Regions from separate parts of the Homo sapiens genome. Here region 1 is linked to region 2. A link means that fine-mapping ties the variant in region 2 to the expression of a gene that starts in the linked region. Tissue or cell type: whole blood. Region 2 holds a variant in brackets; the other region holds the start of a gene. All regions are shown on one strand. Distances are between the middles of the regions.

Region 1 (2,759 bases), 74 kb before region 2:
CCACTCCAAGTCACATAAGAAAATGAATTCCTTTCGTTTTAGCTCCTCTCTTTATTTCAGCAGTGCGTTGTCAACAGGGCCACATTATGTTAGCAGATTTGAACTTTATCCGAAAGGTGTTTGTATTTTATTTCAAATTATGAATTCCTGAACATCGGATTATGTACGATTCTGCAGTGCCCTCGGAGGCCCATTAGAGTCTGGAGCTCGAGAAGCATAACAAACTCTGGTCTGATATTTGTAAGGAGCTTGACAGCCAAGGAGCCACTCAGAAACAGTTATTGGTATTGCCAAAAAAAAAAAAAAAAAAGGAAGCTAAGAAGTCACCCTTCTAAATAAATAAATAAATAAATAAATAAATAAAAACCTGAATTGGAGAGCTGCCTGCATTTCACTCTACTGCCTCTGGAAGAAGAGTGTTATCTAAAGTGCTTCCATCATGAATAATGATTGAGAAACTGCTTTTACTCTCCCGACTACTGTACTCCCAGGCAGAAACCCACGGCTGAAGCCCACGATGCCCATGTGTAACTTGGTTATTACACACACGTTTGGAGCCCAGTGTGCAGACCCGCAGCGCAGAGGAGGCGGCGGAACACCCCGGGTTGGTCGGGTTTCCAAGGGCTGACCCGAGCTCCAGCACTTTTTCCGCGCCTGATTTTTCAGGTCATTTTCGAATGGGCTATCTTTGCTTACATTTTGAGCTTGGATCCTCTCCAGAAAGCATTACTACCTTCTAAAAGGAAAAACATCTCGTATTTGCAGACAGTGCTGAGGGAGCAAAGTTCATTTTCTCGGGTAGGAGAAGATGATTCTCTTGCAACACGTGCGGATTGTGACAAAATCTTTCATTAACAAGGGGAGTTTCGGTGAAGTGGAGGTTTGGGGAAAGGCGAGGAAGTCGGTCTGGAGCAAGCAAGCAAAGTGCGGAAGCTGTACTGGGATTCTTCTAGAAAGTGGGGTGGGAAAGGAGCTAGGGAGGGCGTGTGGAGGGACGAGATCTGTGTCAGAACGTGCGTGTGAGCGGATACAAAACCCGAGAGAGGCGTGAGCAGCGCTGTGTTTGCGAGCGGGAGCGAGGGGCGCCGGCTGGGGTGTGTGCTCCTGGTGAGTGACACCGAGGGGAAGGCGGGCGGGTCGGCGGGCGGGGGCAGCCTGCGAGGGGCGGGAGTGTCCCTGCGTGGGGCGGCCGAGCCGGAGTTGTGTCAGTGAAGGAATCCAGTCCGGGGGCCGAGCTGGCTGCGCCCTCCGCTGCAAGCGCCGGCAGCGCGGGGCGAGCTCCGGACGGCGCGCGGCCCAGGCAGCGGCTCCCGCTCGGCCCGCCCTCCGAGCCGCAGGGGCCGCCACCGCCGCGGCGCCTCCCCTGGCGACCGCGCCCCCGGGCCCCGGCTCCGGCCCGGGACGGAGGAGCCGGCGCTCGACACAGAGGTAAGCCCAGGACCCCCTCCACGCCGGGCCGGCTGGGGATGCAGGGCGCGGGCGGACGCGGAGGGGCCTGCGCGGCCGGGACGGAGACTCGGCTGGGCCGAGCATTCCGCAGCCCGGGCCGCCCAGCCTCCGCCGCCTCCCGGAGCGCTGGGTGTGGCCCGCGCTCGGCGCCGAGGCGGGCTGGTGGCGCGGACCGGACGCGAAGGTCGCCGTCCTTCCTTTCTCCAGCCGGCGCGGGCAAGCGGGAGGAGGCGCCGGCTGGGACGCACAGTGGCGCTCCCCGGGCGAGCGTGTGGCCGCCGCGCTCCGACGTGTACCCGCCCGCCCCGGATCTGAATCGCCCGCGGCCGCCGTCCCTCGCCTGCCGTCCTCCCGCGCGGGCGCCCCCGTTCCCTCCCAAGCCGGAAAGAGACCCACCGTCCCCCAGGCTGCTCTCTGGCCCGGAGCCGCAAAGCCCACGTCAGCCGCGACCACCCCGCCCTCGGATCCCAGCCGGGTGCGGGGGCCGCGGCCCCACTGAACCCCGCGCCCCTGGCGCCCAGCGGGAGTGGGATGCGTTGGCGTCCGCGCTGCGCGGGTGGGCTGGGGTGGCCGGAGCAGACGCGGAGCGCCCTGGCCGCGGGACGAAGCGGTCGCGCCGCCGCATTTGGGCGGGGGGACCCCGGAGTCCGCGGGCTGCGGACCCCAGCGGGAGACGGGGTTGTCGTAGGATGCGCTCGCGCTGGACGCCGGCGCACTCTGAATATCATGCTGCCGCACACGCGGGGCTGAAGGGCCGAGTCTTCACCTGCGCGGGGATGCGGCGGAAGCGTCGCGTCTTCGCGAGTGGAGGTTTCGTGTTCCCGCGGGGTTGGTGTGTTTTTGAACTTCACGAGCTTCTCATCCCCCCCGCAATCCTGGTTTTAGCAGATGTCGGGGTTTTGGAGACCTGACACTTTTCGTGAAAGATTCTTTCTGTACGTTTTCTTTTGGCTATATTACAGGGTTTGTAGCTTGAGAACTAGTGAAAACCCTTGAACTTCAAACACAGTCTCATTGCTTATTTTTTGAAATTTAAATATTAAAATATGTACCAGCCCCCTCACAAGCCGACAGACTTTAAGACAAACGACTGTGAAATTTTAGAACCTGTGCAGAGAAAGTGGTTTTATACCAGTACTTGAAATAGTAAGGTCGTGTAACCTTTTTAACATCGTTTTAGTTTGTCTTAAAGGAAGGTTTCAGCACCACTTTGACTGGTACTGTTTTCCAGAGTTTAAGCAGATGTATGTAATATAGCAGGGAAGAGGACAGGAAGTCAGAAATCTCTTCACTCTGAAAAAAAAAAAAGA
Region 2 (2,759 bases):
TCAGAAGCAGATCCTTATAGGAGCCAGCATTGGGTCACTTTTAGAAAAAGGCATTTATTTATATTCTCAAGCCAGCAGAGACCTATGAAATGAAATAATTTCAAATTAAATAGAAAAACCATGCCGTAGGTGAATGCTAATAAAGCCTGCCGTGCGTCCTCCTCCCCCTGTGCTTGCACTGCCTCAGATCCGCTGCATTTATTTTAGCTGTCCTTTGCTCTTTTGTGCCCATTTGCATTCTGCTGCTGTGAGGAGGTGGTTTGGCACTTTATGCAAAAATGGTTAATCTTCATTCATAAGCATTTGCCAGTACTAAAATGGAAAATTCAAAGCTGGGACTGCCATAAAGTGTGTTTTGTGTTCTGCTCTGCCGTGTACGTGCAGCATATACAACAGTGTGCGCCACGCAGATGACTCTGCCTGCCATACAAGCACTCAGCACTCGGGGCTGTTGAGTGAAGAGGTTCTCCCATGAAGGTCTCAAACTTGCATGAGCACATCTTGCCCTAGATCTGCTCAAGTGATATTCTAAGTGATTGGAAGCTTTTATCTGCCTCTGAAAGCAGGCCTTTTCAAATAAGTATTGACTGTTAATGACCTGTTTAAATAAAACATTCAATTTTCTTTCTTCCCCCCACAAAGAACTTAGTAGGCAGTGACATTTCTAAACCAAAGGCTAACCCTGCTTTTCAAAAGAGGCCAAGCCAGAGCTTTTAAATGTGAAATTTTTTTCTGACATTTGCCCTTAAAATGCTTTTCAGTGAAGTTGTTCTAACAGTGGGTTGAGTACATTGAAATGTCTTTGAATGAAAATGCAACCTTGAGTTTTTTTCTCCAAATTAAACAAAAAATGCCAATCTAAGTATATTCATATGAAATTCATATTTCAGTCACCACCCTGTTTCATTGTTTATGTTTCTCAGTCCTAATAATTAAAGCGACTTTCCTCTAAGGAACAAGAACTTTTATTAAACTATGGAAATTAAACCACAGAAACAAAGAGCAAAAACACTTGAAATATAAGAGACCTGAGTCATTACCATGCCAGATAAGGAGTAGCAAAGGATGGAGGGAAAAGGAGGAGGGGACAAAACGGAAGAGAAATTAGGCAATTTAACAGTTAGGCCACAGAAAACATACCTAGTACTAAGTTTAGACCAAATCTC[A/G]GTTTTGAAGAAGGAGCATTTGTTTCCCTCTTCAGCTGGCATGCAAGTGCCCCTGATTGTGCTTAGGGCCCTGGATGGTTAGTCTCTGGTTTAAAAGTGACCTGTACAGAGAAATAGCCTACTACTGTACATCATTGGAGACAGCACCCACGCCTTTTATAAGTGTTTCCATCAACTCCCAGTGCCTGTACAAACCTGTAGTACCTGAGAGCCAAAAGAGACCACAGAGTTCATTTCCTCCAACCTGGAGATCTGAGGCCCTCGTGCCACAGTGTGGCCTGTCAGGATGAATGATGCCCTTTATAGACAGATGTGAAGTTCTTCCAACTCTCCCTATCGAAGGGTACCTGTCTTGTTTCCCATCCTGTCAGAGCACTGCTGTCTGCTAAGGGCCAATTGACGGCAGTAGGAGAATGAAATAAATTAGTCTGTGATAGTGCGCCTTCTTCCAGAGGTAATATATTGCATGCCTTCAACTAAGTAGAAATGCATATGTCTCTTGAGAAGCCATACTCAGAGATACTGTTGGATGCTGTTTTGCCTGAGAGATTTTTGCTGCTTCTCAAATCACATGGCATAATTGACTTCCTACGCACAAAATCAGTGCTGATTCTTCCCCTCTGAGGCAGCCATGAGAAAATGTCTTAGGATCTACGTGATCATAGTGATGCAGGATTTTTGAATAGCATTGTCTAGGCTATACCAAAGTCAGGTACACAGACACTTTAATTACTCTTAGTAATTAAGTTAGTAATTCAGTTAGTTATGCCTTTAGACCCCAGAATGTCACAGAGCCACTGGGCTGCATCACAGCTCGCAAGAAACAATTTGTTGGCTGAGGGCCCACTAACTGCAACTCTTTGCACCTTCACCTGAGGTAGGAAGCTGCAGGAAAACAGCCGTTTTTTGGTGGGGTCGGGGTTGTGGTGAATGGAGTCACTCTGTCACCCAGGCTGGAGTGCAGTGACATGATCTTAGCTCACTGCAACTTCCGCCCCACCTACCGGGTTCAAGCAATTCTCCTGTCTCAGCCCCACCCCATCCCCCTCCCCAGTACCTGGGACTACAAACACACGCCATCATGCCCAGCTAATTTTTGTATTTTTAGTAGAGACGAGGTTTTGTCATACTGATCAGGCTGGTCTCGAACTCCTGACCTTAGGTGATCCACCCGCCTCGGCCTCCCAAAATGCTGGGATTATAGGAGTGAGCCATCTCACCCAGCCAAAAATAGCCATTTCTTTGAAACAAGTTCATTTATGCCCATTCCTGTGTGAGTGGAGTGGTTTCGCACTGCAGTTTGTGCATCCTGCAAATGCGCAAGGCATATACTGTGGGCCTGTCTGGCCTGAGAAGGCAGGTCCCGTGGAACGGTTTTATTCCCCTGGTGGAGTTCTTACTGCATTTCATAGACAGTGAGCCCTGTGACTTGTTTATGATGGTTTTGAGGTGCTGTTAGCCCAATGGCCGTGGGCTTGCTGAGTTGGACTGCCTTAGGTTTGAGTCCTGGCCCTGCCACTTAACTGTGGGACCTTGAGCAGTTACTAGATCTCTTTGTGCTTCAGTTTCCACGTATGTAAAAATGGGGATAAT

What was found. PIP is the estimated chance that this variant, and not a neighbour inherited with it, causes the effect.
Region 1: SPATS2L starts here. The variant in region 2 is fine-mapped to the expression of SPATS2L in whole blood (INTERVAL, PIP 0.91).

The regions. Positions count from the first base shown.
Region 1 is chr2:200,305,495-200,308,253 of GRCh38, forward strand. SPATS2L (spermatogenesis associated serine rich 2 like) reads left to right here and starts at 1,199. Exons shown (of 13, transcript NM_001100423.2): 1 at 1,199-1,428. RefSeq lists an enhancer at 574-673 and silencers at 1,084-1,813, 1,834-2,163.
Region 2 is chr2:200,379,983-200,382,741 of GRCh38, forward strand. The region is part of intron 2 of SPATS2L (spermatogenesis associated serine rich 2 like); the gene reads left to right. Among named protein-coding and RNA genes, the nearest start is that of SPATS2L, 75 kb to the left of the region's middle. The variant A/G (reference allele first, on the strand shown) is at 1,167.